Homo sapiens: one gene and its partners. The protein of the gene in region 1 purifies or fractionates together with the protein of each later gene. This does not show direct contact. Each region holds a gene or a part of one and is shown in the gene's direction. Other genes may lie near its edges.

Region 1 (4,200 bases):
TTTTAAAATGACTGACTCCTCCAACCACCATTACCCTAAACACACACACACGCACACACACACACATGCACACACACAGAGGTACACACATTATCTATATATCAACTGAAATGTCTGGTCTTACAAACATCTTAGTGCTGACATGCCACTATAGGTTTAGAGCCACTGCCATCAAATACTCTACTTTTCAGTTCCTGACTCTGAAGGTTCTATGTAGGTTCCATCTAAGATGGAACTTAATACTTCAGAAACAAAACCCCTCATTTAAAAGAGCTTTCTCTGTTTGATATTGATACCGATACTTTTTAAATGCCTTTGAATATATCACTGACTTCCATCTCCAATTATTTTTGGCTTGGTTCCTGGTTCATGTGTTCTGTCTCAGAAATACCAAAAGGCATTGAGCTCAGTTTTACACTGGTTGTTCTCACTAGAGTTTTCAAGTCAGGACTTGGAGATCAGCCAAAGTCACGGTCCCAAAGTAGACCACAAATTGAAGGTCATCTTTTCTTAATTTCCCAAGCTGGGATAGTAGGAGTTTAAAATAGCCACTAAGACTTATTAGGTTCTTTGAACAACTTGTGGCCAGTGGGACTTGAAGTTGAAAGAAAGATCTAACATCATAGACTTTCCCTTGAGAAGACACAGCTCAGGTATGGTTTAAAAGTATGTGAGAATCATATGATAGCTCTACTTTGAATTTGGGGGGGAAATCTCTATGCCATTTTCCATAATGACTGTACTAATTTACATTCTCACAAACAGTATACAAGAGGTTTTCTCCATGCCCTTGTCAATACTTGTTATCTTTTGTCTTTTGATAGTAGCCATTCTAACAAATGTGAGGTGATATCTCATTTTGGTTTTAATTTGCATTTCCCTGATGATTAGTGGTGACAAACATTTTTTTCATATACCTGTTGGCCATTTGTATCTTCTTTTGAGAAAAGTCTGTTCAGATTCTCTTCCCATTTTTAATCAGGTTATTTCTTTTCTTGCTGTTGAGTTTCTTATACATTTTGGATATTAACTGTGCCTAAGATATAAAGTTTGCAAATATTTTTTCCCATTCTGTATGTTTTCTCTTCACTCTTTCAACTGTTTCCTTTGCTGTGCAGAAGCTTTTTAGTTGGATACAGTCCCACTTATCTAGTTTTGCTGTTGTTTAGCTTTGTGTTTTTGGGGTCATATCCAAAGAAATCATTGCCCAGACCAATGTCAAGAAGTATTTCCTTTATGTTTTCTTCTAGTAGTTTTTTTTTTTTTTTAATAGAGATGAGGTCACACTATGGTGCCCAGGATGGTCTTGAACTCCCTGGGATCAAGTGATCTTCCCACCTCAGCCTCCCAAAGTGCTGTAATTACAGGTGTGAGCCACCATGCCAGGCCTCTTTTGGCAGTTTTATAATTTCAGGTCTATGTTTAAGTCTTCAATCCATTTTAAGTTGATTTTTTTATATGGTGTAAGATTCAGTTTCATTCTTCTTCATGTGGATATACTGTTTTCCCAATACCATGTATTGAAAAGACTGGGGTTGTAATCCACCACTAATCCCTTGTAAAATCCCTGCCTCTCTAAAGGTATCTTCGCTCATTATTCAAACATCTCATTTGCATGAGAACTGGGATCCTTTTAGCTTCCTGAGTCAGTACATTTGGGGATGATTCTCTCTTTATTTACAGATTATAGAAGCCTATACAAGTATACAAGTGCACAATTACATCCACACATGCATGCACATACATGCACAAGCACATGTGCAACCCACATTTTCTCTAGACACATAATCCCCTAAAACAAATTAGAAATCAAACATACAACTTTCTAGGCTTAGGGGCCTCATGGGCTTTATGAAGTATCGTTTCCTCATTGCTCTAAAGCACTGAGGGATCAAAGTTTGATCCCTGGACCAGCAGCATCAGCATCATCTGGAAATTTGTTAGAAATGCTCATTCTTGGGCCCCACCTCATACCTCAGTCAGAAACTCTGGAGGTGGAACCGAGAAACCTGGGTTTTAATGAGCTCTCTAGAAGAATCTGCTGCCAACCCAATCTTGAGAGCTGCTGGTCTAAAGAAAGCATTGCAATATCATTTTCTGAGGAATAGATAGTAAATCCTCAAAATGAGCCTCAATTATAATGGACAATTCAGAATAAATCCCCTTGTATCCATCCTCCCCTTTGCACCCTAGACTTCCACTCTGCTTTCCCCTTCTACCAAAGAGTAAATGTACTTTTGTCTCTTTTTAGGTCTAGACAAACTGAAAGGCAATAAATCCTATGTGAACATGGACCTCTCTCCGGTGGTAGAGTGCATGGACCACGCTCTAACAAGTCTCTTCCCTAAGACTCATTATGCCGCTGGAAAAGATGCCAAAATTTTCTGGATACCTCTGTCTCACATGCCAGCAGCTTTGCAAGACTTTTTATTGTTGAAACAGAAAGCAGAGCTGGCTAATCCCAAGGCAGTGTGACTCAGCTAACCACAAATGTCTCCTCCAGGCTATGAAATTGGCCGATTTCAAGAACACATCTCCTTTTCAACCCCATTCCTTATCTGCTCCAACCTGGACTCATTTAGATCGTGCTTATTTGGATTGCAAAAGGGAGTCCCACCATCGCTGGTGGTATCCCAGGGTCCCTGCTCAAGTTTTCTTTGAAAAGGAGGGCTGGAATGGTACATCACATAGGCAAGTCCTGCCCTGTATTTAGGCTTTGCCTGCTTGGTGTGATGTAAGGGAAATTGAAAGACTTGCCCATTCAAAATGATCTTTACCGTGGCCTGCCCCATGCTTATGGTCCCCAGCATTTACAGTAACTTGTGAATGTTAAGTATCATCTCTTATCTAAATATTAAAAGATAAGTCAAACATTTTCATGAGTGGATAGACATGTTCTGTTACCTTGCTGAGGATGACTCTGAAGGACCAAAGCTCAGTTCTGATAAGCTTTGAAAAGGACAGGAAAAGGGAGGGTGATCAAGCATTGTGTGACACGGGTATAAGCTAAAGGCAGCAGTAAAACACTAGATAGAACTGCAAACAGAAGGAAAGAAAAAGATAGGAAAAGGAATAAGAGGACTGCAACAAAAGAATATATACCTAAATATATATATATGAAGAGAGACTCCCCAACACTCAGACAAGCCTTCCTAGAGGGAGCTATGGAGGTGAACATCCTATTCAAGCCCCTAAGAACATTGATGCACACAGTTTTCTGGTGGAAAGATGTAATGACATAGTAACTAATCATTCCAAAAGAAGAATAATGTTACATTTGGTTGGTTTATTCTGATGATTGTAAAAGTAACAAGACCCAGACCATGTGGCACAACTTACACCTGAGATGGCTGGAAATCTTGCATTTGAAGGGTCTTTGAAGCCCCATGAAGATATAGAGCTAAATAAAAAGGCTCTCTTTAGTCTACAGTTACAGTGGGATTAGATCTGCATCTTGCTTATATTCATGTTTCTAAATTGAATAGACCCTGGGCCCACACCCCATCCAAAAGAAAGAGTTCCCTAAACAGACGTTTCCCGATTCCAATAGCCAATACTGCTCGCAAAGGTTTGTAGACTATTTACAAGAAGAAGCCTGCAGTGGCAGAATGCAACATGTTTTGCTTAATAATATGGTGTAAACAGCCAGAGAGATTAGCTAATGCACATGTGCAAGTGTGCACGTGCACACACACACAGAGGCATATACACACATGCTTAACATATTGCAAAGAAAGTCTGCCTGTAATCCCAGCAGGTCAAGGCAGAAGGATCGCTTGAGCCCAGGAGTTCAAAACCAGCTTGGGCAATATAGTGAAATCTTGTCTCTACAAAAACTAAAGAGTTAGCTTGGCATGGTAGTGTACATCTGTAGTCCCAGCTACTTGGGAGACTGAGGCAGAGGATCACTTGAGCCAGGAGGTTGAGGCTGCATTGAGCTGTGATCATGCCACTGCACTCCAGCCTGGAAGACGGAGCAAGACCTTGTCTCAAAAAAAGAAAAGAAAAGAAAAGAAAAAATATTTAATATCTGCTGCTTGAAACCATGTCCGTTTGAAGGTATTAGTAATTCTATTCATTTTTAATCACCTTTCCAGAAATATCTGCTTATGAGGTAATTTTCTCCTTTCAAGTTTACAACATATTGGTGAGTGAAAAATCAAATTACAAATGGTGTCAATCCACTTAGATATACATTTC
Region 2 (4,595 bases), on another chromosome or scaffold:
ATTCTTATTTGTGCATGTAATATATTTCAAAATGTACGAAACCATTTCAAAAATAGTTTTAATATTACATTTTATTAATACAGAATAGTCTTTTAAAGGTATTGTTCAGAAAGGAAACAGGATTGCAACAAAAAAATAATTTTTTAAAAACTGAGAGGTGTCAAAACAAAAAAAAAATAAGAGTTTTAGTCAAAACTAAAAAAACAGTAGTCTAATTCCCTACATTACATTGTAAATCCCAGACCCTCCGCCCCCCTTTTTTTTTATAGTGGAAGAAACTACCACATAGTTAGACATTATTTTAATGATTATAAGTAAAAACTTTTGTCTTTTTAAATTTTAGGGATTGAGTGTTGCTATAGTGGGACCCACGTTTCAAGATTTGGCAACAAACGTGAACCGAAATATCAGTAGTCTGTCTTTCATTTTTGTGGGTCGTGCCTTGGGATATTTGAGTGGCTCTGTGATTGGTGGATTTCTTGTCGATGTCATGAATTATTTTTTACTTTTGGGTAAGTAAATGCTAATTTTAGCTTCTTTATGACTGTCAAGTGAATTTACAAGTTGTCTTTGAAAATATGAAAATACTAGCATGCAGAATGGTTGGCCACTGAAATGGGTAGTGTTTAGGTGTCCTCAATGGCAGTTGAGTTTCCCTGGTACCTGCTTTCATCTTGACAGTTAGAGGGTATCTGTGCTGGGTCCCTCTGGAAATTTAGATTAGCTCTAGAGTGTCTTAGCAATCCTTAGCCTTTCCAACCACTATAATTTAGCTACCACTCCTGGATCACACACTGGTTGTCCAAAAAACTCTGCTTAGAGGGTTTAGGGCAGATTTCCTGGGGTCACCACAGATCAGAATGAGCTCTTTGAACCTGCCCAGGCTACACCCTGGATTGGGAATGAAGAGGGGAAGCGAGGTTGGGTGGACTGATGTAGGCTATGTTTTTGTTCCTGCTGCCCCATGTTGTCGTTGGACAACCCCAGAGTGCTCTGTCTCACCCTGGAAATAGATGGCAAAGCTGCTTTTTTTTTTTGAGACAGGGTCTCCTCTCCCTCTATTGCCCAGGCTGGAGTGCAGTGATGCGATCTCTGCTCACTGCAACCTCCCCCTCCTGGGCTCAAGCGATCCTCCCATCTCAGCCTTCCAATTAACTGGGACCACAGGTGTGAGCCACCATGCCTGATTAATTTTTGTGTTTTTAGTAGAGCCGGGGTTTCACCATGTTGCCCAGGTTGGTCTGGAACTCCTGAGCTCAAAGGATCAGCCTCCCAGAGTATTGGGATTACAGGTGTGAGCCACCACGCCTGGGCTGGCAAAGCTTTTAGCATATACTTTTTTTGAATAAATTGAAATATTTAGAGAAAATTTAGATTAATATGATAAAATTGTTTTGGAAGCAAGAATAATTTGTTATTGTTAAGGAATTAATAAATAATCCCTCTTATTTCCAAAGTGGGTTGAAATAACATATTTCTTGTATTTTCCTCCCTATTTCCCAAACTAATTTATTTAGTAAATTTTATTACAAACTACTCTAGTAATTGCATTTTATTTTTGTCTATTTAATTTTTTGCCTCATGTCTAAAAATTCCTGTTAGGTTCTTAAATGTGAATCATTTAAATTAGTTTTGGCTTGTCTCTTTTGGTATAAAACTTTGCCTTATGGTATAATTTACAGTTTGATTACTAGCAGTGCTTTAAATGTATTTGTGTTATAATTATTTATATTTCATAATCCATAAAGATTATAAAAGATTCAAATGAAATAATCACTTTTAGAAGCAAAAACTCTCATCTACTCATTATCTAATTTAAATTTGACCTGATTTTGCATGTTTGGACATTTATGATATTGACTTGATCCATGACTGCATGGATATTATTTTTTATAGCTGAGTTTCTACCTTCCCAGGAATCTCAATGTCGGCTACCACCGTTGGTCTTTATCTTGTTCCTTTTTGCAAGACAGCAATATTACTCACTGTCATGATGTCTATCTTCGGTGTTTCAATTGGCATTCTGGATACAGGTTAGTGAGCTCTTCAACGTCATCTCTGGGAGTAGGGACTTGCTAGAAGAAGTACAGCAGATGATACTAAACTGTCACTTGCAATGCCCCCTAAAATGACACAGACCTACTGAGTTGGTTGTGAGTCACTCAGAATGAATCACCCTTCTAGCAGCTATTCTTGCCAATTAGGGGGCCTGTTTCTGAGCAGCCAACTCTGAAATGAACTTAAAGAATTTTGTTCTATGAGAGATAATTGATTTACATTGTCCAAACAGGGAAGGGCCCCTGTGTGGGTAATTACAGTGCAGGTGAATAGGCCTTCATCTTGGGGTAGAACTTTATTGCTCTAGTATGGGAGGAATTGGTGGTTTAATAGGTTAAACCAAGTTTGGAACTGTTATTTGGCTGAGAAAGCATAGAAGCAGCAATCCAACTTGACATTTACCCTGACTTCCAAGCCAAGAGAGATCCATAGTGTGGACTAGGCTCTTTCTTTTTCTTTCTGTCCTCAAAGTTCCTGGCCTCCTGCAGTAGATTCTTTCCCGTATCATCATCATGTCTTTTAAAACTTACTAAATAGGCCGGGTGCGGTGGCTCACACCTGTAATCCAGCACTTTGGGAGGCCGAGATGGGTGGATCACGAGGTCAGGAGATCGAGACCATCCTGGCTAACACAATGAAACCTCATCTCTACTAAAAATACAAAAAATTAGCCGGGTGTGGTGGTGGGCGCCTGTAGTCCCAATTACTCGGGAGGCTGAGGCAGGAGAATGGCATGAACCCAGGAGGCGGAGCTTGCAGTGAGCAGAGATCACACCACTGCACTTCAGCCTGGGTGACAGAGTGAGACTCCATCTCAAAAAAAAAAAAAAAACCTACTAAATAACGGCGGGGTGGCTTACGCCTATAATCCTAGCACTTTGGGAGGCTGTGTCGGGCAGATCACCTGAGGTCAGGAGTTCAAGACCAGCCTGACCAATATGGAGAAACCGCGTCTCTACTAAAAATATAAAATGAGCCAGGCATGGTGGCGCGTGCCTGTAATCCCAGCTACTCAGGAGGCTGAGGCTGGAGAATTGCTTGAACCCAGGAGGTGGAGGTTGCAGAGAGCCACGATTGTGCCATTGCACTCCAGCCAGGGTCTCAAAAACAAACAAACAGAAAACCTACTAAATAACATAGATGACATCTGTTTACTCCTAAAACCAGCTTTCTACCCCTCCCTTCCCTGCTTTGCTGTTACGTGATCTGTTGAGGAAATATTTTATTTTACTTTAGGGTTAATTTTGTTATGAAATTATAGGGTAGAATTATATATTTATCTGAAAATATCTGTTGAAAAAAAAGAAGATAGCTCAAGATGTGCTGCTTCTTGCCTTTCTCCTCCTAGACGTTTAGACAGTATAAATTCAGATGCTAAACGGTGTCCTTGTTTCCTCTAATGGGCATACCAGAATCCTGGCTATTCAGGTTCCTGGACGTGTGTTTTGCATCTGTTACATACATAAGTAAGTAATTTTCCTCAAGTGGCTACCAACAGCAAGTACAGAAAGCTTTGGTAATTTGGCTACTATCTGATGATAAAATTTTGCCTTTTAAATATATATTTAAAATATTAATATATAAATATTTCTTCTGCAGTCTGATGTTAGAACTGTATTATAAAAAGCGTCTTGCTAATGTGCTTGGTTCTAGGAGGTAGTAGTCTACTAGACTGTAGAATTCGATTTGTGAGTATGTGATGTTATAATGCTTAGAGTTGTCTGGTGGTAGTGGGTTAGAATTCCTTTCTCAGAATTGATTTAGTTGCAATGTTTGATAATTAGAATATTATAATGCTTGTGCTATGTAAAATAGACTCACCCCCTTTCTGATAAGTGAACTTTTTTTTTTAATAAGTAAGTAACTGTTTAACTTAAATAATTTTTCCCATCTTTCATCGACAGGTGGTAACGTCCTTATCTTGGCTATTTGGGGGGACAAAGGAGCCCCACATATGCAGGCCTTACACTTCTCTTTTGCCTTGGGTGCCTTTTTGGCTCCACTGCTAGCTAAACTGGCTTTGGGTCCGACAGCGTCTGCTGAAAACCACACAGAGTCTGACTTCCATCCTGCACTCAACCAATCATCTGATGCTGACTCAGAAGCTCTGTTTGGAGTACCTAATGATAAGAATTTACTGTGGGCTTATGCTGTTATCGGTACTTACATGTTCTTAGTTTCTGTCATTTTTTTTTGTCTGTTTTTAAAGAATAGCTCAAAGCAAGAAAAAGCAAGAGCATCTGCTGAGACATTTCGAAGAGCAAAATATCACAACGCCCTTCTTTGTCTCCTTTTTCTGTTCTTCTTTTTTTATGTTGGAGCTGAGGTAACATATGGCTCTTATGTTTTCTCATTTGCAACCACCCATGCTGGCATGAAAGAAAGTGAAGCTGCTGGGTTGAACTCCATCTTCTGGGGGACATTTGCAGCCTGCAGGGGCCTGGCAATCTTTTTTGCTACCTGTTTACAGCCTGGAACCATGATTGTGTTGAGCAACATTGGCAGCCTGACTTCATCTTTATTTCTGGTGCTTTTTG
Region 3 (4,262 bases), on another chromosome or scaffold:
TGTCTCCTAAATAATATTAAAACGGGCCTAAAAATCAGCAAATAACTTCAGTTTAGAACGGTAATTTCAAACTCGTTTATGTCTGATAAAATAGCATAATGGAACAGCAGTCTAATCTCATAAATTGTAGTGTCTCATTTCTATTTTAGTGGTGGGTTGGTGTCACTCAGAAAGGAAAAAAAAAGCCACTTGGGCTTTTGGGTAAATAATGTGTGCTGTGATGTGTGCTGTGAGATGTCATCCAGCGCTCCACCAGAAGAGGTCACGCCCACTGTCTCAGGTGATACGTGTGTTGAAAATGTAGTTTAAAAGGGATTTCTGGGGCCCAGTGCAGAGGCTCATGCCTGTAATCCCAGCACTTTGGGAGGATGAGGTGGGCGGATCACAAGGTCAGGAGTTCAAGACCAGCCTGACCAACATGATGAAACCCCATCTCTACTAAAAATACAAAAAAAATTAGCTGGGTGTGGTGGTGCGTGCCTGTAATCCCAGCTACTCAGGAGGCTGAGGCAGGGGAATTGGTTCAACCTGGGAGGCTGAGGTTGCAGTAAGCAAAGATTGTACCACTGCACTCCAGCCTAGTGACAGAGTAAGACTCTGTCTCAAAAAAAAGAAGGGATTTCTGTGCATCTTCTGGGTAGAAGAGGTGGCAGTGTTGTGGAAGTATTAAAATCGCGGTGACGCAGTTTCAGTGGTGTAGGTCACAGTGAGATGAGAGCTGAAATTTGTTCCAGAAAATATAAGTTGGGGTGATGGAGTTATCCTATTCTAAGGCTAACTTAGTTATGCTTATTGCTTAGTTATGCTTATATGCATAGTTGTGCTAATTCTGTAGCCACTAGTCACATTTCAAGTGTACAATAGCTGCATGTGGCCAGTAGCTCCCTTATTGGACACAGGCTATGAGACAATAACAGTGTTGCAGAAAATTCTCTCACAGCTCCCTATGACTCTGATTCAGGGTCTTCATATTAGTGAACACTGCACACATCCATTTGGGTTCTATGAGTTGAAGCAATGAGTAAATAGAACAGAAGAGAATAGGTTCCTTTTGAGCATAGTGATGGCGCATGTTGGAGAGTGAGTTGTTCACTGCACTTGCCATGTCACCCAGTTGTGTTCCTGAAGATAATCTGTGATTCAGCCTGTGCACTTCCTGACTGCCCCGATGAGGCATCGACGAAAATGGCAGCCGTGTGCCCTTCTGTCTCCAGAGGGTCAGCCAGAGGCTGTCGGGCTCCTCTGTCACCTACACAGTCCAGGAATTAAGAGAGTTATGTAATTGTTAAACCCTAAAATTGGAAAAGAGTTAATTCAGTCAAATTCAATGAACAAAATTCAGCCACTGCTTAGGTTTCTTCCCAGAATAGCACCTCACTTTCTCCTGCCTTAGCTATCTGAAGTGGAATGAACCAAGTTGAAATCTGCTTCCCTGTAAGTCTAGTGCATTGGTCTGTTTCTGCTTTGAGACCTTACAGAATCAATATGTGGAAGAATATGCAAAGTGTTGTTCAGTCTTAAAATTCGTTATCTAAATTTTATTTTATTTTTCTTCTCTAGATCTGGATCTATAATGAAGAGCATGAATTGGTTTTAAATAGTCTCCTTTGTCTAGATATGTCAGAGACTCGCTCATCAGACCCGCCACGGCTCATGAAATGCCACGGGTCAGGAGGATCCCAGCAGTGGACCTTTGGGGTGAGGAGTGCTCGGTGATGTTGGGAGAATGCGCAGAGGCCCACAAGGTTGAGTGAGGGAGTGTGGCAGATGAACTCATTTTCTACCTTGGGGGTGGTCTTCTCAGTCTGCAGTACAGTGGTCCCCCCAGAAACCACAGGTAGTACAAACCCTGTATATACTGTATTTCTTTCTAGAGATACACCTGTGATAAATTTATCAATTAGGCACAGTAAGAGGTTCACAACAATAACTGAAATGAAACGGAACAGTTAGAACAGCATACTGTGGTTGCGCAGTGGCTCCCGCCTGTAATCCCAGCACTGAGAAGGCGGAGGTGGGCGGATCGCCGTAGCCCAACAGCCTGTTTGTTTTCTCTATAAAAACAAATCAGTATACTATAATACAAATTGTGATTGCGGTCAGAAAATATCTTATTGTATTGTGCTGCAGATAACAAACAGCAGAAAACTAACCTTTGGCTAAGAGGGGACTATTGTATCCCTTAATCTGAATTCTTAAGTGCTCCATCTCTCCTCTGGATTTCCATGTTTTGCCAGTAATTGGCAGTATTTTTTTGTTGCTACCTTTTTTTCAGAAAAACAATCGGCTATACCAGGTGTCGGTTGGACAGTGCCTGAGAGCAGTGGATCCCCTGGGTCAGAAGGGCTCTGTCGCCATGGCGATCTGCGATGGCTCCTCTTCACAGCAGTGGCATTTGGAAGGTTAAGGTGGATGCTGTGGTGGGAACGTTGCTTCATCAGGCGTTGCCTCCGGTGTGGAGTTTGGGGCTTTAGGAAAGCCTGGGTTGGGTGGAGCAGAACCATCTTGGAGAAGATGACAGTTCCCTGTCCTCCCGGAGATGCCTGGGTGTGTTAGCAGAGGTGACACGTGTCTGACAGAGACGGGAGCTCTGAGTGTCCACGGGTGAAGAAGTGAGTGTCCACGGGTGAAGAAGTGAGTATGTTTCACCTGGACATTAAGGTGATGTTTGAGCTGCTGTTAAGGAATTTCTTGCTTATAGAGGCAAACCACAGTATCATTTTAACTCTAGAATTGGGCTTGTACAGAAGGATAAAACCCAGGAAAATGGATATTTCTATTCAGATTTATTTATGCCTCTTTTTAATCCCCTTTAATGATGCAGTGGTTTTTATCTGATCAGGAACTTGTCATGATTTCCTTTCTTAGACTTCATAGGAGATAGTGCTTTAAAAAAAAAAAAAACTTCTATTATTTGTTTAGTATGTTGTAAGTAGATCATTTTAAAAAACTGAATCTATATTATGTTTAACTTCAGAAGGCATCATTTATAAGACAGTATGGCAGTTAATTATAAAATTATTTTGATGAATTATGATACAATCTACATAATAAAGAATCCTTTTGATTATTTAGGATATTTTGTCTTGTATTGGGGCCTCTGGTCTGAGGTGTGTTGCATGCTCTTGGATTCAGGTGATGACCCAGTAGGCTCGGTAGAGTCCTCTGCCTCTCAAGACGCGTCCCAGTTTCTTAGCTTGAGCTGTGTGACCTTAGATACTGGACATCAAAGTTGCCTGTGCAGCACCCAGGGAGAGCTGCTCAACCGGCAGTTGGATATAGAGGTCAGACTCTTGGAAGACGTAGCTCAATTAGAGAATACATTTGGGAATCACCTGCATATACTAAAAATTCTGAAATATAAAGTGAAGTTTCCTCCCAAACCACATCTTAAGAGGAGAGATGGTCTCATATTGCAGGGGATGCACTCAGATATTTTATCTGAACCACAAAACAGTTTGCCACATCCTAAATATTTTATCTGTCATTTGACTTCAAAGGCCAGGATGGTACATATGGAAAACAAGAGCAGCAAGATGGCAGATTGAAATCCAACAGTGTCAATAATCACATTAAGTGTAATGAATGTAAATGCCACAGTTAAAAGGCAGATTAGATAAAAATGCAAGATCCAACTATATGCTGCCTGTAAGAAACTCACTTTATGAATACATTAAAATTAGAAGGATGGGAAGATAGATATATGAAAGACATCTGAATAGATAGACAAAGTAGATTTCAGCACAGAGAATATTACTACAGATGATATAGAGGGTCATTTCATGAATAAAAGGTTCAACTTATCAAGAAGAAATAATCCCAAAGTTCTGTTAAAATTGCAAGAAGTACACGCATCCACAATTGTAGTAAGAGATTTCAACACACCTCTCAATAATTGATAGAACAAGTAGACAGAAAAACAACCATCTTGGCCTAATTGACACTACCCAGCAACACAATACTTGGAACATTTACCAAGATAGACCATATTCTGGGATATTGAGCAAGGTGTGATATACGTATAGAAATTCAAGTCATGCAAAGTAGAATAGAAATCAATAACAGACACTTGGAAAAATCTCCAAATATTATAAAAAACTAGCACACTTCCCAATACCTTATGGGTCAGAGAAAAAAATCAAAAGGCTATTTTGAACTGACCAAAAATGAAAATACAACAGTGTGTGGCATGCAGCTGAAGCAGTACTTGGAAGTTTTATAGCATTAAGCACCTATATTAGAAAAGGATACAAGTCTCAATG
Region 4 (4,595 bases), on another chromosome or scaffold:
GCCGTACTTTTTATTTTATTTGCATAGTGAAATTCCTTTGTCTTATGAACAGTTTTTCTAATATTCTGTGGTCAGTTGAAACTATATTTATTAATTTTTATCTCTTAATTTTTTGGATAATTTTTTTTTAACAATAATAGTGACATATTTGCTGCCCAAATTCAAGGAGACCCTTCCTGCACCCTGCCCCAACCCAAGCGCATTTTTATTTGACTAGATTATTGAAACCAAAAGAACCCTTTGAGACCGAGTGGGATGATTGCTTAGTGGAAATAGGTCAGGCAGAAGATGGGTCAGATGGGGACCTCAAAACTTAATTTTAGTTTTTTAAAATGTTAGTATTTTCTGAAATGGTACTCAGAGTTAGTAGATAACCCCCTTTAAATTGTGCATGTTTGTGTACATGTTTCTTTTTTTCTGCAGAGAGAGAATCCCTATCTTTCATAATTCATAACCAGTATAACCTAAACAAGTTAATATTCTCTCACTAGCCTAGATCGTAAACTTGATGAAATTCTGTTTAAGATTAGCACCTATTAAGACACTGCTCAGTACTAGAGGATATTTTTGATTCACAAAATTTTAGCAATTTTTTTTAGCGTATTTCTATCTAAAAATATTACTTTTAACAAATAGCACATGATACTTCAGTGGGTGTTTTAATATATCTAGATTATTTAAAAGTTAATGTTCATATTAAAATTTTAAAAGGTGCTTTAATGTACAGGAAAGGAATTTGTTTAAAAATCCTTTTGAGAAATCATATTCTAGTTTTTTTTTGTTTTTTGGTGAATCTAGGCTTTTCACGTAGCATAATACTGTGATATAATTATTTAATTTTCTGCACATCACTGGAATATAAAATTTCATATTAATCCAGAATGAGCAGAAGTGAATAATATAATTTCCTCTTAAGTTCTCTTATGTTAAAATAATTCATTTTAAATTATATATGGTTTCTCCCTAATAACTTACAGCTAAAGACATTGTTTTACTTAACAAATTCAATTTACACAGATGTCTAAAGATGAATAGCATTCTTATTTGAAAAATATAAGTTAAAAACAAGATTATGAATATATTCAAAACATTTTAGTTAAAGGTTAATTAATGCATTATAGATTTAAGAGTTTAAAATTTAAGTAGGGAATTGAACATTTGAAATTTTGCTTTCCCATTTTGTGATGGTATGAATAAATCCAATTCAAATACATTTTAATTATAGGTTTAAATAGGTGAACTTTTATAAATAGTTATTAGTGAGTATTCTGTACATTTTATTAGCATATCATAGCATATTTTTGTTCTAAAGACTGATAATACTATTTTATTGGGAAATATTAAGATAAACTTTGTTACAGTTTCTACACTTAACATTTTTTTTCTTTAGCTCTCAATACTCTAAAATTTATGAGATTTCCATTGGTTTTATTAGTAATGTCTAGAAAACCACTTCTTTGTAAAACCATGTTTTCAAACAATTGATTGTGATTAAATGAGTCATTGGGAATTAGGAAACTCTTAAGTAACCAGTGGTGGCAAAGTAGGAGATTAATACCTTAAAGATTTTCTAAATGGCTCTTTGCTGTCCTGGAAGACTAATTTATATCTAATGGCATTTAATTTGTTTATAGGGAATAATATTAATAATTTATTCCTAAGAAAGTTACAGTATTTAGGAAAAATTACAAAAATACATAATAATTCAAATTTGAATTTTCAGGAAATCTTAGTTTTCTATTGCAGTAATTGAGTTTGTCTAGGTGTATGTGTGCTTTGCTGTTATAAGCTTACTTTAGATGCTTCTTTGGAAGGTATGTCTTATTTGGGTATGTCTTATCTAATATTGCTGATTAATCATTACCATATTAGCCATTTTATGAATTACTGAGGCCCTTTTAGTTCTCTTTCCGTTTTCATGTTTTTCCTATTTTCACAATTCTACCAAAAATCTAAAAGGGACCAAAGGCAATATAAATAGAAGCCAAAATTTCTATTCTTATGTTACTACTACTTGTTGCTCAACTTAAGTCTGTTTAATACCTATTCAGTAATTGAAATGATATTTTTTAAATCTCCTGTTAATTTTTACTTTCACAAAGCTGAATGGCTGTATTAAAACTAGTTCACCAATGAGAAAAATATAACCACTAAGGTGTGGAAATGAAGAAATGTGTGTTTTGTTTTTGTTTTTGTTTTTGTTTTTTTAAAGAAAAAGGGTTATTTAAAGTGAGCTGAGGGAGATGGGTGGGATCCAGATGCTTGGAGCTGTCTACTTCCAGACCAGGTTAGTAACATGACGCCATTCACACAAAAAAGTTGTTTTTCCTGCATATTGTGAGTTGGTGGTCTTGGTCCTTTTAATTAAAGATAAGAATACTTGATAAAATTACATTTCTTGTTGATCATCTTTTGCAGAAAGACGGAGAATTACATTGGTAAAGAACCGCTAACCTGTCCCCTCACCCCCAGGGTGTGAGCAGTGAAAAGGATTAAGGCCCACTGTAGGGAAGCTTACACTAAAGCCTGCACTGCCCCTTCCCCTGTTCTTTCAGCTAAATAGATTTTTAGTTCCCATGACTATCAATCTGGTGCTTTTCACAAGCACTAAATTCTCTTAAAGAAAATTAAAGATGACTTATTTTTTTAGAAACTGGCCTGGAATACTGAAAGATGGTGTTTTTTGGTACTTTGTTTCATGTTGACAGATCCCATACATATTTTTTTCTGATGCATGTTAATTTGCTTCAGCTTGTTTTGAATTTGGAGTTGAAATAAACATTTAAAAACCAAGGACAGGTTGTTATATGATTAGATTTGCTTGTCCACAGTTAGCAAGTGTAGAGTTCGACACTGTTGAATCTTACATTTCATTAGAAATAGCTACCTGACAGCCTTGTGGACATAAACTCTTTAACTTTTATCTAGATGACTACAATTATAAAGTGCTTTCTTTTAAAAGCTTTTAAGTAGCTTTTATAAATGCTGAAGTGTCATTTTTTTTAGTATCTGCCAAATTGGTATTGTATTTAATCTTGAAAATATATTTTGATTTTCTTAACTAACAATAATTGCATAGTATTAAACATTCTCAGTAGCTCAACCTTTTTTTTTTCTATTTAATTTGAGCTTTTGTTGTTACTAACAAATAATTTGTGGCACAGTTTCTTTCCTTTTTTTTTTAAATGACTGCTAGAATCTATATACTTGTCACCTTAGTGTGCTAGAAATGTTCCACTCAAATCAAGGGTTCCTTTCTGGTTTTGTATGTTCTCACCTGCTCCTCACTGTAAATCATTGAGATGTCAAGTGCAATGATTAATTAAGCTGCACGTGCAAGTGCTTTTTTTTTCACCTGTCAAGCAGGAAAGAAGTCTTATAGCAAAATTAGATGGTGCTAATTCACAGCTTTTACTTCAGACTGTGAAGTGTGTAGAAATATTTTATATTTATATGCTTATTCAGAATGTGGCATATCAGGGCTTGTTTGTTTTATAATTCTTAAATATTGTAAGATACAATTATTATACCAAGCCCTATCATTAAACTCCTAATTATAAACAGAGAAGAAATTCAGAATTCCTACTTAAATATTTTGGAATTCAAGATTTATACTTTGTAATTATCTTTTATTCAAATACTAGTAGTTGATTTAAGTTAAAGTAAATATTTTTAAGTTTTAAAATTGTGTGTATGTATGTGTCTATATATCATAATGAGATCTATTCTTATTATAGCATGGGTTTAAACTTCTGATGAAATGATGGTGGTAACTACATTTTTTTCTTTAAGTAATAAGTATTTGCAGAATGTAGTATTAAGCTTTTGGGTACTATTTTATACATTAATATAAAACAGTGGGCTTGGAAAACTTGTTCTGCTCTAGTTCTTTCATCATCCACCCACCCCCAAAATCATCAGTAAAAGTAAAACCTCAAATTGTATAGTAATCTTAATCTATTATTAAAAGGCCCTAGAAAGAAAGATTACAAGGTAGATTCAGGTTTTGAATCGGTTTTGCCATTGGTTTAGCAGCGGGTGGGCAGGCAGATGCCTGCTCAGAGTAGAACCTATTGCCATTTTTCACCATTGATAGAGTAGCCTTTCAGAGTCAATGAGCTCTGTCAATGTGAGCTTGTCAAGGCTACAACTTCATAGACCTGAGAGGCGGTTTGAGAGGTCAGCCCTTTTCAGGTTCGCTGTGATGCAAATGAACTTTAATGCTTAAACAACTATTGGAATTTTTATGTCTGCTCCTTGTTCTTTTTTCTTCACAAAGTCATTGACGAGACATTCAGTGCTTTTTAAATTGGAAGTTGCATTGTGCTAAAGACCTAGTACAGATTTACGGAGGGCTGAAAGCAGTTAGATCATGTTCTTTTCATGGTGCGATTAGAATCAAATCGATTTCCCTACAGCCTTCAGCATTCAGATGGCAATTTTAACAAAGCTTGGGGGCTAGACAAGGGACAAAACGACCGAACTGAATGTTAATTACACTCTGCAGCCTTATTTTCTTTTGATTTGGGGCTGACTGGCAACTAAATTAACAAAAAGTGTGACCATAACTGCTGCCCTATTTTCATTTAAAAGGA
Region 5 (4,595 bases), on another chromosome or scaffold:
CTCCATGTTGGTTAGGCTGGTCTCGAACTCCCGACCTCAGGTGATCTGCTCGCCTCAGCCTCCCAAAGTGCTGGGATTACAGGCATGAGCTACCACTCCCAGCCAATAAATTATTCTTAACTATAGTCACCCTCTTGTGCTATTGAACACTAGAACATATTTCTTCTGTCTAACTGTATGTTTGAATTAATTGCTGTGTATAGCGTGAAACAGAGATTCAGCTTCATTCAGATATTCAGCTTTCCCAACACCATTTATCGAAATACTTTCCTGTTGAGTATATCTTGCTTTTATTTTTACCAGTTTCACTAGGATACTCTTTCTTGTTTTTGAGGAGAAGTCTTTCTCTGTTGCCCAGGTTGGAGTGTAGTGGCGCAATCTTGGCTCACTGCAACCTCTGCCTCCCAGATTCACGTGATTTTTGTGCCTCAGCCTCCAGAGTAGCTGGGATTAGAGGAGTGCACCACCACGCCTGGCTAATTTTTGTATTTTTCGTAGAGATGGAGTTTCACCATGTTGGCTAGGCTGGTCTTGAACTCCTGGCCTCAAGTGATCCAGCCACCTTGGTCTCCCAAAGTGCTGGGATTACAGGTGTGAGCCACCATACCTGGCAAGATACTCGTTTTCAGGGTATGTGGGCACCTTAGCAAGCTGCAGAATGGATTTTCTTTTCTTTTCTTTTTTTTGAGACAAGAGTGTAGCCCTGTTGCCCAGGCTGGAGTGTAGTGGCATGATCTTGGCTCACTGCAACCTCTGCCTCTCGGGTTCAAGCGATTCTTATGCCTCAGCCTCTCGAGTAGCTAGGACTACAGGCAGACGCCACCATGCCTGGCTAATTTTTTGTATTTTTAGTAGAGACAGGGTTTTGCCATGTTTGTCAGGCTGGTTTCAAACTCCTGGCCTCAAGTGATCCACCCATCTCGGCCTCCCAAAATGCTGGGATTACAGGCGTGAGCCACTGCGCCCAGCCCAGAATGGATTTTCTGATTCTTGCTGTGATATTTCTGACATGGATGCATATTAGGTAGAGTACATTTATTTCGTCTGATGAAAATGGATTAAAGTACAACATAGTTCCTTTGAGCCAAGTTGCTCATCTATTTGTATGATGAGAGGTCATCACTGCACTGAATGATATTTTAAGAAGTCTAGTTTAAAAATTTTAGTCTTACCTTCCTATGATCTTGCTTTGTGGGCGGGGAGATTAAGTTAGTTTTTTTATTTTGTTTTTTTTTTTTGAAACAGAGTCTCGTTCTGTCGCCAGGCTGGAGTGCAGTGGTGCAATCTCAGCTCAGGCTCACTGCAACCTCCACCTCCCAGGTTCAAGCGATTCTCCTCCCTCAGCCTTCTGAGTAGCTGGGACTACAGGCGCATGCCTCCACGCCCAGCTAATTTTTTTAATTTTTAGTAGAGATGGGATTTCACCATGTTGGCCAGGATGGTTTCAATCCTTTGACCTCGTGATCTGCCCGCCTCAGCCTCCCAAAGTGCTGCGATTACAGGCGTGAGCCACCGTGCCCGGCCGAGATTTTTAAACAAACTGATAGACTGCAGACAACTAGCCTGATGCTGGTTGTACTCTGTGGTTGGTCAGTCTGTTGGAAAACTGTCATAGTGTAACCTTAGCCCATCACCTCTAGGGTGACTCCTTGTCTAGGAAAATTGAGAATTAGTTAAACTATCATTAATTTAAATGAAGTTTTATTTATTTTGAGATGGTTGCTCTGTTGCCCAGGCTGGAGTGCAATGGCGCGATCTTGGCTCACTGCAACCTTTGCCTCCCGGGTTCAAGCAATTCTCCTGCCTCAGCCTCCCAAGTAGCTGGATTTACAGGCTTGTGCCACCACATCCAGCTAATTTTTGCATTTTTAGTAGAGATGGGGTTTCCGGCATGTTGGCCTCGAATTCCTGACCTCAAGAGATCGGCCCACCTCAGCCTCCCAAAGTGCTGGGATTACAGGCATGAGCCACTGCGCCGGTCAGAGCTTTATTATTTTATTGGATAAAGTTATTTCATGGAAATTTCCACCTATCTGATCTCCTTTAATTTCTTACTGTTTATTTTGACATCACCATTCAATATTTTAGCAGGATAGTAAGACATACCACTAAATTCTTGGGAAGATAGATTCTTTTACAGTTCAATTCCCAAGATAATTAGGAAATTTAAAAGTGATTAAGTTTTAGTTTATATGACACTTAAAATCACGAAGGCAGTGTGTTTTAATTGCATTTAGGGCATCTAACCATCAGCTCTGGCTTTCTTCCTGGCTCCCTGACTTACTCTATCTTGGTAATGAGTCCTTCATTGATGTAGCCTCGTTTAAAGCACTTTTAGGTTTTCAGGGAAGTAAAATATAGATGGAATAGGAATTGACATTGTTACATTCAAACACAAGTAGCACTTCTCTCCTCCCCCATCCAAACTGCATGACGGTTTTCACCAAGATGGCAGCTTGCACATATATGTTTAATGGTATTTTTCTTATTTGTAAACTTGGACAGTAGTAAGATCATTCAATACTGAGGTATAGTAGCTGTGGCCCTGATTACAGTTTGAGTCTACAGTTGTTTTTTTCTTAAGTCATTGGTCTAAATGAGTTTGATTTGTCTGTAAGTAGATAGAGAGAGGCTTCCCCAGATACCTTGGCAGGAACACTGTGGTCAGGGGTCTAGTCTCCCCTTAACAAGTGAGAGCTTAGTTTGTCAGTGAACTGGATATAACCAGGTCCTTTGGCACAAATTCACGCTAGTTAAACCCACACCAGTAAGTTTTAAAACCAGAACCCCAAGTTATTAATTTATAAAGGGAGCTCTACTCTTTCAGTGTGTATTCATGTCTACTGTTCATAATACTCTTTTCCTGGGAATACGATACCTAAGAAGTTAAACTTCAAATTAGAAGGCTTATTGGTGAGCAAGGAATCAGAGGGAATGAGGTCAGGAGTTTGAGACCAGCCTGGTCAACATGGTGAAACTCCATCTCTACTAAAAGTTTAAAAATCAGCTGGGCATGGTGGGGTGCACCTGTAATCCCCGCTACTCGGGAGGCTGAGGCAGGAAAATTGCATGAACCCGTGAGGCAGAGGTTGCAGTGAGCCGAGATCGCACCACTGCACTCCAGCCTGGGCAACACAGCGAGACTCTGTCTCAAAAAAAAAAAAAGATACTTCTCTTTCTTGGACAAACCTGATAACCCTATCAAATTCTAGCTCTTTGGCCTCCCTTTTCTAGACCACAGCAGAAAACTCCTTTTCTATAGAAAATATTTTCCTTGGCCAGGTACGGTGGCTCATGCCTGTAATCCCAGCACTTTAGGAGGCCAAGGCGGGCGGATCATGAGGTCAGGAGATCGAGACCATCCTGGCCAACACGGTGAAACCTCATCTTTACTAAAAATACAAAAAATTAGCCGGGCGCGGTGCCGGACGCCTGTAGTCCCAGCTCCTCGGGAGGCTGAGGCAGGAGAATGGCGTGAACCCGGGAGGCGGAGCTTGCAGTGAGCCGAGATCGCGCCACTGCACTCCAGCCTGTGTGACAGTGCAAGACTCTGTCTCAAAAAAAAAAGAAAATATTTTCCTTGCATGTGAACCCCATCTCTACTAAAAATACAAAAAAAATTAGCTGGGTGTGGTGGCAGGTGCCTGTTATCCTAGCTACTCCGGAGGCTGAGTCAGGAGAATTGCTTGAACCCAGGAGGCAGAGATTGCAAGTGAGTTGAGGTTGCACCATTGCACTCCAGCCTGGGCAGCAAGAGTGAAACTCCGTCTCAAAAAATAGCTACAGCATTCATTTTTGTTTTTGTTTTTGTTTTGAGACAGTCTCGCTCTGTCGCCCAGGCTGGAGTGTAGTGGTCCAATCTCGGCTCACGGCAACCTCTGCCTCCCAGGTTCAAGTGATTCTCCTGCCTCAGCCTCCCAAGTAGCCGGGATTACAGGCGCTTGCCACCACGCCTGGCTAATTTTATTTTTTAATAGAGACGGGGTTTCACCATGTTGGCCCGGCTGGTCTCAAACTCCTGACCTCAGGTAATCCGCCCACCTCGACCTCCCAAACTGCTGGGATTACAGGCGTGAGCCACCGCGCCCAGCCTACAGTATGTGATTTTGTTTCATCGATCATTTCACAGACTATGTATGAGATGAAATAGCTGTGGCCACATAGATAAGATATGGCAGTTTCTTATGATTTCAGTACTTCATATTTACCACCTTTTCAGGCAAGTTACTTTTTTTTTTGAAATGGAGTTTTGCTGTTGTTGCACAGGCTGGAGTGCAGGGGCATAATCTCAGCTCGCCGCAACCTCCGCCTCCCAGGCTCAAGCGATTCTCCCGCCTCAGCCTCCGAGTAGCTGGGATTACAGGCATGCGCCGCCACATCCGGCTAATTTTTGTGTTTTTAGTAGAGACGGGGTTTCTCCATGTTGGTCAGGCTGGCTTTGAACTCCCGACCTCAGGTGATCCGTCCGCCTCAGCCTCCCAAAGTGCTGGGATTACAGGCATGAGCCACTGTGCCCGGCCAGCAAGTTACTTTTTATCCATTATACAAGACCTCTTGGTTGCTAGAAGAATTTTTTTTTTTTTTGAGACAGAGTC
Region 6 (4,595 bases), on another chromosome or scaffold:
TTTGATTGATTAGCTCTGACCAATCTGTACCAAACATTCCAGGCAGTGTTGTGCACATGGTGCCAGGTTGCTGTAATTTTTTTTGCACGAATAATATACTCACAGATAATTATTCCTTGGATAAGCTCTGAGAATATTTGTATGCAGATTAGCATTTATTGAATAGCACGGTTGAGTGATGGAGCAGGAAAAGCATCAAATGGCTTGGGAATAAAATTTAATTTAAATAGATTAAATAAAACAGCCCCAAATAGCTTAATATGGCACCTTGTGAGGCTGTGGAAAACCCAGCAAATCTTAGAAGCCAGCTTATCTGAGTGAGAAAGAAATTCAGATATGAAAAGACAGAAGGTGTGCAGTTCACTTCGGATCCCAGGCTCACAGAGGGTCCCCTCCATTCTATCTACATCAGCTCCAAAAGCCTGAGAGTTTCATCTTCATTTCTAGCCTGGGGAAATCACATTGTCTGAGTGAGCGATTTTCCTTTATAGAAATGATCAGAAATAGTAGCTTCCGGGGTGGTAGTTGTTTGAATATGTGCCTGTGCTTGTGAAGGAAAAAGTACTTTAAAGCACTAGGCAAGGATAGGAATGTGAGACTCAGATGATTGGGATTTTTCTGTTTTTAATTCTTCTATAATATTTATTCATGATGACCTATTTGCTTCTTTGTAGTTTTAAACATTCACTGCTAAATCCTTATAGCAATGTATATATTTTTTCTTTGTTTGCTCCCTGGGAGATCAAACTCTGATAAGACTTAAGTCTGTTATAGATAACCTCTCACAAACTTTAATATGCCTTTCTCTAGTAAGCAATATTGTTGGCATTATCTTATAGCTTTCACTGAAAAACTATGTCATGTATCTTTTATGTGCTATGATAGGAATGGATTTTAATGTCTCCTCATATTAGGTTCCTGTTGGTGTTCAAATGAATAAATATGTGATCAATGGAACATATGCTAACGAAACAAAGCTGAAGATAACACAACTTTTGGAGGAAGATGGGGAATCTTACTGGTGCCGTGCACTATTCCAATTAGGCGAGAGTGAAGAACACATTGAGCTTGTGGTGCTGAGCTATTTGGTGCCCCTCAAACCATTTCTTGTAATAGTGGCTGAGGTGATTCTTTTAGTGGCCACCATTCTGCTTTGTGAAAAGTACACACAAAAGAAAAAGAAGCACTCAGGTGGGATTTCTTTTTTTTGTTTTTTGTTTTTTTTAGAAAGTATTATCAGTTAATTATAAGTATCATTTACTTATGATATGGATTATGATTTGATACATTGCAATGACTTTAGGATTTTTGGGGAAAATCTTCATTTTCTTATTTGGAGCAGTATTTAGGTTTACAACAATGGTGACAGTGAGCTGGAAACATATACCCATGGTCTTCCTGTTTCAATTCCTGAAAAAACTTAGTATTAAAAATGCCTTTTTTCTTTCTCTTCCCCCACCACCCCCCTCTTTTTTTTTTTTTTTTTTTTTTTGGTGCTACTGGTACCTAAGTACCAATTAGGTGATATGTATTCTGGCACTGGAATATTAGAAAAATCTATGATAGCTTAATATAAAAAGTCTAAAAGAAACAATTTTTCTTTCACTTAGATTATCATTTAAAAAAATATTTTATTAACCATTCCAGAGTTCTCATTAAAGAGAGACCATCCTGTCATGTCCTATTTTTGCGGCCTGTGCCTGATGGGTTACAGGTTGATAAAGCAGTAATCCTCTAGAAAATTGACCTTACGTCCTGTATTCTTTCCTGATTTTATACTAAATTTTTAATGATTTAAATAATGACAAACTAAGCAGTCATGTTTTTGAAAATACCAGGCCACTAAACTATGTTTGATCAGAAATGCAGATAAGGTCTGTAGTGCAGATAAAGGAGGTGTAGGTGTTTAAGGTAGCATGTCTCTCCTTCATTCCAAACAGGAGAAACAGCATAGTACTTACTTACTTAGGAAGGAGGTTTAATTGAGCATATATGTTCCATAAAAGTGACAAACCAACTTCACAGTCAAATTCTTCTTTTGTTACACAGATGAGGGGAAAGAATTTGAGCAGATTGAACAGCTGTAAGTATTATTTTTTACAGATTAATTTTCACTTGGGTAAAATACAGGGAAACATAAAATTGAATGAAATGTTTGCAGTTAGGGGGAGAAAAGGCAGAGGAGTATTTTCTGTATATGTCCACGTGGTGGTGGAAAGTGGCTTTCCAAGTCTGCCTACCTGCGTGAGAATTCTTCTTCATCACTTACTACCTGCACTTCTCTGTACTTCAGCTTTCTTCTCTACAAAATGGATTTAATAATAGTACTCACCATATGAGGTTGTTGGATGGAATGAATATTATATATGTGTAAATGCATAGCATAGGTTATGGTGCACAGAAGGTGTGCAGTAACCATCAGGAAGTATTTAATATTATTATTTTTAAAGCAATAGTTCTCAAGCCTGGCAATTTTTGATCACTTAAGAGCCTCTTTAAAAAAATACAGTTGCTCAGACCTTGCTGAATCTCCTGGATCAGAACCTCTTGGGTTGGGGCTATGGCATCTGTTATTTCTTGAAAACATCTACAAATGGTTTTGATCCTCTGTCTGTTGAAAATCACTGGCCTAGAATTCTATTAGTTATTATTATTCAGAGAACACAAATTGTGCCACAGGTTCTCTTACACAGCCTTTGTTTAGAGTTAAGCATGAGGAGGTCTGGAAATAAAATCACCAGGGATGTAATTTAGTTTGGCAAAGATGGGAGTTCCGAATTCCTCGAAGCCAGAGAACTGAGTATGGAGGCCAGTGACAGAGGTGTCCAAGACTGGGATTAAAGCCTGAACAATAGAGCCAAGGGCTGGAGTCCAGGAAAACGAGGCTAGATTAAAGTTGCTGCAAGAAACCTGAGAAGTGGAAGGCCTGAGCAACTATAACTAACACAAAATGGCACTTAGAGTTTATCAGCCAACAGGAGCTCTATGGAGTGAGTGTTACAGGCATGGATAGCAGGAGTGGAGCAGACAGTTGTCATTTAGATGTTTGTAGACATTATTCAGATAATCATGTTGACTCCATTCACATAGGCTGCTAAAATAAACCAATATGATATGAGCTTCCAAGTTAAGGGCACAAAATAACTACATCAGAAATCCTATAACACCAGATAGAGAAAAGCAATGTTGTCTTAGAATCATAGACTCCCATAGTTGGAAGGGAATTGTATCTCTCCCAAGAGAATCCCTTCTCTTTCTGGAGAACATAGATATCTTATTTATGTTGATTTGAACTTTTAATCTTTCCTATTTCCACGTATTGGCGTTTTTCTTGTTCTTAGCATCATATAACAAACGTGACAGTCATTGACATATTTGAAAACAGAACCTTGCTCGGATTCCTCTATTCTCCGAGCTCTGCCTCCCACTGTCTCTAACCATTCTTCTGAGCTCACATTTGGAAGTTGCATTCTGATTTAAAACACACTCTGAAAGGATGGTACCAGAACAGTGTGGAATGGACCATCACTTCTGAACAATGTAAAATGGATTCAATATATAGTGTAAAAGATGAATTATTTTTCTGAAAATTGGATCAATGTACATCATTTTGCTCATCTTGTATAGCACCATAAGGATCACTGAAGGTGTTTAGTTTTTCTTCAGGTTATTTCACTATCTTTAGATTGTATACAAATATCAAGGGCACTTGAAATCATTCAGAACAATGAGCTTCTTGATGTCCCTCAAACCATTTCTTGCAATAGTTGCTGAGGTGTTTTCTTAGTGGCCATTATTCTGCTTTTGAAGAGTACACACAAAAGAAAAACAAGCACTCGTGGGATTTCTTTTTTTTTAGAAAATATTAATTATCAGTTAATTGTAAGTAACACTGTCTTATAATATGCATTATGATTTGATAATTGACGCCTGCCCCCAAGACCTTGAAGGGCAAGGTATTCATTATGCATACTGGTTATTTAGTTTCCGTCAATCTTTAGAATCTGAGGCCCACATTTGTAGTCCTGCTCTGATAAACTTTGGGTGGAAAAAGAACCATTTTTAACCTCTATTTCAGTGTAATAAGCATACAAATGTATAGCACCAATATCACACATGTTGGCTGACCTCCTAATTGGCTATTACCTTGCATGTTTCCAAAACCACACATAAGTTATGGTCTTTACGCCCAAGTCCTCACTCATGCTTGGGGAGAAGCAATTCTCCCTGTGCATAAAATCAACAAGCCTTTGTCACTATCATTTGTGGTAACAGCTCCTCTTCAAGCAATGCCATAAAATAAATTCAACATTGTAAGTAAAACATTTTTAGGAAGAAAGAATTCTGTCCGTATTGACATTTTACATTTTAACCTGATAGCCATATCAGTGATGTACTGACTTAATTTTATATAATATAAGCATTTAGTAATTTTCTTTTTTGTTTTCTGTGCAGGAAATCAGATGATAGCAATGGTATAGAAAATAATGTCCCCAGGCATAGAAAAAATGTAAGTTACTTCTGAATGATATTCCAAATAAAAGGTCAAATTCAATATACATAGGCTATCTATCAATCAGTTACTTTTTTTTAGT
Region 7 (4,595 bases), on another chromosome or scaffold:
TGGTGCCAAAAAGATTGGGGATTCCTGTATTAGAAGAAAAGACACAGTGCACTGAAGAGGGACTCACTGTAAGGAACGGATGGGCACATAACTGCATGGAACATCTCTCCCTGCAGCTCTAGTTCTCCTTGTAAGTCCCTTGCGTTGGTAGAATAATCCTCAGTTAGACAAACACTGATTTAATATGTAGCTCTGGCTAACAGGAGGTGATTAAGAAGAAAACCTCTTAAGATGATTTCCATCCTTTGTCTCTACTTTAGTGGTTTATCTTCATTTCCTGCCTCTTTCCTGTCCCTAGCTGTCTTTATGCTGCTTTAGTTGAAAAGCGTTAATGTGGTCATTAAGGAAAAATAAGTCAAATTTACATTTGACTTTTTATTTTTAAATATTTAATCAACAGAATCCTTGGTTTTACTCATTGCCGCCCCCCACCCCCCAACACACATCCCTTCCTCAACTCTAAAGTGAGCCTCATTCTTTCATATTTTCTTCCATCTAATTTAGAAATTCTATTTGGATTTTTAAAAATTATATTTATTTCTTTGTAGAAAATAGATATTTTCATCTTTAAAGTACCTTTATGGGTTTTTTCTTCTAAAATTGTTTTTTAAAGAAAAAAGTTTTATTTGGAATAAGATTCTTGTAGGTAATTCCATGAGATGATTTATTTTAGCAGCAACATAATATTTACATTATTATTAATGTAATTAATGTTATTAATACCTCATCAGATAGCTTCTTTGATCTGGAAGCTTCCAGGTACCTATTGTCAGTACTTGTGGCTCTACCACTTGCCGAATGTATTACAACTCTAGTTGTGGTAGAGAGGGGACTGAGAGGTAGACAACTTATGTAATCTACTACCTAGTTTGTTAACAAAACACACATACAAAGCAATGTTTTTCAAATTTTTCTGACCACTGAGCAATAAAAATTATGACATATATTTTGATGTGACCCAGTTCTGTCTCTCTTTCTCTACCCTCTAAGTGAAACAAAATTTATTGAAACCAAAATTCCCTTACTACATGTAATATTCTCATATATTCTATTAAATTTCGTTATTTAGCTTGCTGATCAAAGGCTACTGAAACTTGAGAGCAAGATACAGGAGCAAGGGGAAATGTGGTATAGATTCTGAGTGTCAAGTGGCAGGTCCATTTTTTCCTCTAGCTCCAGTTCTGCCTTCTGAGGAAAACCTTCTCCAACAACTTAGGTCAATCACACCCATGTCCCTTCTCTGAATCCTTTTTGCACATATGATTGGTATCCGACAGCCTTACTCATTTACATTGCACTTATTTGGCTGCCAAACGTCACAAACTGGAACCATGTGTTACTGAAGGGAAAACCTGGAAGTGAAAAGGGTTCAGCAGTAGTGCAAATACCATCATAAAGCTCATATACTTCACTCTGCAGGAGGGAGAAGCTCTGTGGTTTTCCAACTGAGAGCATTACAGTACAGTGATACCACTGTACAGGAACTGATGTTCCTGATGATTCTGCTGTGAACAGTATTTTTAATATACACTTTGAAGAAGGCAGAGAGAAATGTATAATAGACTTAAATTTTTTTCTTTAAAATTGTTAAATAAAAACAAATAAGCACTTTAAGTAAGTTACAATTATCTGGAAAACTACTTAGGTGGAAAAACTGATACAGAATGAATGAAGTATTAATTTCTGTTTTGTTCTGTGTTATTATTATTTGGGATAGATGTCTTGTTTCTTTAAGCAGACTATGAATATCTTGAAGGCAGAACCACATTTTTTTTTTTTTTGAGACAGGGTCTCACTATTACTCAGGCCAGAATGCAGTGGTGTTATCATAGCTGACTGCAGCCTGGATTCCTGGGTTCAAGCCGTCCTCCTGCCCCAGCTTCCTGAGTAGCTAGGACTACAGGCATGTGCCATCACACCCAGCTAATTTCAGCTATTTTTTTTTTTTTTAAATAGAGATGGGGTTTTGCTATGTTGCCAGACTGGTCTCAAGCCATCCTCCTGCCTTGGCCACCCAAAGTGTTGGGATTACAGGTGTGAGCCACCACGTCTGGCCAAGGACCAGATTTTTAATATTCTTTTCCACAATGTATCTGGTACACAGTAGTTGCTTAATATGTTGGCTAAACAAAGAGTGGAGATTCAGTAAAGGGTGATCAGAGTGAGGTGAGATTAATTTGGGAAAGCCTAGAAGTGATTCTTGAGCCTGATTTGAAGGTGGTGCTAGCTGTGGATTAGTAGAGGGAGAAGGGCATCTCAGAGAGAGGATTGCCAACATGCCTTAATTTTATCAGATTCTAGAGTTCCTTATGATTACCTCAGCATGTTGCTAGACTAGCATTATTATCCAAAATTTTAATTATTAACCAACTTTAATCTTACTTTCTAACAAATTGTTTGCTTTTACTACTGATAGCCTTTTCAAAAAACTTTAACTAGTTTTATTCCTTACCATAATTGTTTCAAAGAACATAATGATATGATCCTTTATCTTCCTAAGAAATGTGCAATTATTTGGTTAAACTGTAAGATTATTTAATCCATTATTCTTTTGACACATGCATGGCCTTACAGCTTACAAACTGGGATCACTAAAGGAATACACTTAATTTAAGTCTTTCTGTAGTCAGAATATGATTTCTTGTTGTCTTGCACAATACTGAGAACAGTGCAGTACAGGGCGAAGGTTGGTCTACAGCCCTTAGGCCAGCAAAAACAGGCACAACTGCACCTCTGTGCAAATGTTCCTGACATAACCTTGGGGAAAAAATATAAAATGCGGCCTTTTCTTTTACTACCTTGTTTGGTAAGTACCTGGAAAAACTCCATGAAATAATTAGATTTCATAGTTAATTCTAACTTTTTTAAAAAATGTTTCATTGAGACTAGGTTTTTGGTTTGTTAATTGAATCACTGTTGATTTTACCCTTCCTGGCACCAACCTTTATTTCTGAGCTGTGGAGAGCACAGTTCTCACTCAGTGCTGTGTGCGTCACCTGAAATCCACAGAAAGAGGTGGCTGAACAAAATCACTGATGACCTTAATGGTTATTTTTCACATATTCAGATTAAATTAAAATACGTTTAGTGCTACATGCTTGACTTACTGAGTTTTTCCCTCTATTTTGGTTAATTTTTTTTTTTTTTGGTTAACTTTTACTTGTAGAAAATATGTTGATGAACAAAAACCCACTTATACTATAAGATTTTATTCTACCAAGCACACAGTAACAATATTGAAAGCTGCTTTCCATCTTTTTCATCTTTATACAGTTCCATCGAGCCTCTGTACCTTACCTATGGAATCATATTTGCCTGCGGCTGCTCCTTTGCATACCAGCCTTCATTGGTCATTTTGGGACACTATTTCAAGAAGCGCCTTGGACTGGTGAATGGCATTGTCACTGCTGGCAGCAGTGTCTTCACAATCCTGCTGCCTTTGCTCTTAAGGGTTCTGATTGACAGCGTGGGCCTCTTTTACACATTGAGGGTGCTCTGCATCTTCATGTTTGTTCTCTTTCTGGCTGGCTTTACTTACCGACCTCTTGCTACCAGTACCAAAGATAAAGAGAGTGGAGGTAGCGGATCCTCCCTCTTTTCCAGGAAAAAGTTCAGTCCTCCAAAAAAAATTTTCAATTTTGCCATCTTCAAGGTGACAGCTTATGCAGTGTGGGCAGTTGGAATACCACTTGCACTTTTTGGATACTTTGTGCCTTATGTTCACTTGGTGAGTATGCTCCTTCACTGATCATGAATATTACTATTTAATAAAGAAAAACTTCTTTGAAGAGAAAGTTAGGTCGAGTTAAAGTTGGCCTCAAACATTATCCTGGTTGTAATTTTGGTATTCTTGAAATGAAAGGTCTCTCAAGACAATGTCAGCACATCCATTAGACCACTAAACAGAGAGAGTATGTTTCATAGTGTGCTTTGGTATTTTAAAAACCCTGCAAACCCAGCCAGACACCATGGTGCCTGTCTATGGTCCCAGCTACTAAGCTGAGGCAGGAGGATCACTTGAGCCCAGGAGTTCGAATCCAGCCTAGACAACATAGAGAGACTCTACCTCTAAAAATAAAATAAATGTCCCCAAACAAACACAATGTTTTTTAACAGGAAGGCTAAAATAGTGGAACAAATTACAATCAGTATAAAACATTTGATAGGTCTCTTTTTCTTCATATGGCTTTTATCAGGGACAAAGCTAGCGCTATGATTTTGCTACCATAAGTAAATTGTTTTTCAACCGAAGGGTGTAGGTAATTAGCAAAAAAGCCATGATGTTGATACAAAGAAACATTACATCTACTTGTGGTACACTTCTGGGAAAATGGGAATTCTATTCAGAGGAATATCTGAGAAAAGTTACTCAAGATCTAAATGAGGAAAGAGAACTATGGTTTTATAGGAAATTAGGATTTCAAGTGCTCAAGAAGTTTATATTGTTTATTTCTATTTCAAAGGCAAAATTCAGCTTTGTTATACTGAAATACGAATAATTAATGTCTAGACTGGGGTTGGTGCCTCACGCCTGTAATCCCACCACTTTGGGGGGCTGATGCAGGAGTTCAAGACCAGCGTGGGCAACATAAGGA

What was found.
Region 2: the proteins of DHRS9 (region 1) and SLC60A2 purify together in Homo sapiens (affinity purification with mass spectrometry; 3 studies listed by BioGRID and IntAct, with this or other methods). This does not show direct contact.
Region 3: the proteins of DHRS9 (region 1) and GALNT11 purify together in Homo sapiens (affinity purification with mass spectrometry; 3 studies listed by BioGRID and IntAct, with this or other methods). This does not show direct contact.
Region 4: the proteins of DHRS9 (region 1) and CHIC2 purify together in Homo sapiens (affinity purification with mass spectrometry; 3 studies listed by BioGRID and IntAct, with this or other methods). This does not show direct contact.
Region 5: the proteins of DHRS9 (region 1) and TULP3 purify together in Homo sapiens (co-immunoprecipitation; one study listed by IntAct). This does not show direct contact.
Region 6: the proteins of DHRS9 (region 1) and EMB purify together in Homo sapiens (affinity purification with mass spectrometry; 3 studies listed by BioGRID and IntAct, with this or other methods). This does not show direct contact.
Region 7: the proteins of DHRS9 (region 1) and SLC16A10 purify together in Homo sapiens (affinity purification with mass spectrometry; 2 studies listed by BioGRID and IntAct, with this or other methods). This does not show direct contact.

What each region holds. Positions count from the first base shown.
Region 1 is NC_000002.12:169,093,293-169,097,492, forward strand, and holds the end of DHRS9 (dehydrogenase/reductase SDR family member 9), read left to right. Parts: intron 1-2,251; coding exon 2,252-2,475; 3' UTR 2,476-2,875; downstream 2,876-4,200. UniProt on the Homo sapiens protein: 3-alpha-hydroxysteroid dehydrogenase that converts 3-alpha-tetrahydroprogesterone (allopregnanolone) to dihydroxyprogesterone and 3-alpha-androstanediol to dihydroxyprogesterone. Also plays a role in the biosynthesis of retinoic acid from retinaldehyde.
Region 2 is NC_000006.12:111,261,914-111,266,508, forward strand, and holds part of SLC60A2 (sodium-dependent glucose transporter 1), read left to right. Parts: intron 1-343; coding exon 344-512; intron 513-1,916; coding exon 1,917-2,033; intron 2,034-3,962; coding exon 3,963-4,595. UniProt on the Homo sapiens protein: May function as a sodium-dependent glucose transporter. Potential channels for urea in the inner medulla of kidney.
Region 3 is NC_000007.14:152,119,271-152,123,532, forward strand, and holds the end of GALNT11 (polypeptide N-acetylgalactosaminyltransferase 11), read left to right. Parts: intron 1-1,560; coding exon 1,561-1,698; exon of another isoform or gene 1,699-1,745; intron 1,746-2,247; coding exon of another isoform or gene 2,248-2,275; coding exon 2,276-2,407; coding exon of another isoform or gene 2,408-2,556; 3' UTR 2,557-3,070; downstream 3,071-4,262. UniProt on the Homo sapiens protein: Polypeptide N-acetylgalactosaminyltransferase that catalyzes the initiation of protein O-linked glycosylation and is involved in left/right asymmetry by mediating O-glycosylation of NOTCH1.
Region 4 is NC_000004.12:54,015,430-54,020,024, reverse strand, and holds part of CHIC2 (cysteine-rich hydrophobic domain-containing protein 2), read left to right. Parts: intron 1-4,595.
Region 5 is NC_000012.12:2,914,320-2,918,914, forward strand, and holds part of TULP3 (tubby-related protein 3), read left to right. Parts: intron 1-4,595. UniProt on the Homo sapiens protein: Negative regulator of the Shh signaling transduction pathway: recruited to primary cilia via association with the IFT complex A (IFT-A) and is required for recruitment of G protein-coupled receptor GPR161 to cilia, a promoter of PKA-dependent basal repression machinery in Shh signaling.
Region 6 is NC_000005.10:50,399,774-50,404,368, reverse strand, and holds part of EMB (embigin precursor), read left to right. Parts: intron 1-914; coding exon 915-1,191; intron 1,192-2,049; coding exon 2,050-2,083; intron 2,084-4,455; coding exon 4,456-4,510; intron 4,511-4,595. UniProt on the Homo sapiens protein: Plays a role in the outgrowth of motoneurons and in the formation of neuromuscular junctions.
Region 7 is NC_000006.12:111,173,939-111,178,533, forward strand, and holds part of SLC16A10 (monocarboxylate transporter 10), read left to right. Parts: intron 1-3,273; coding exon 3,274-3,727; intron 3,728-4,463; coding exon of another isoform or gene 4,464-4,499; exon of another isoform or gene 4,500-4,595. UniProt on the Homo sapiens protein: Sodium- and proton-independent thyroid hormones and aromatic acids transporter.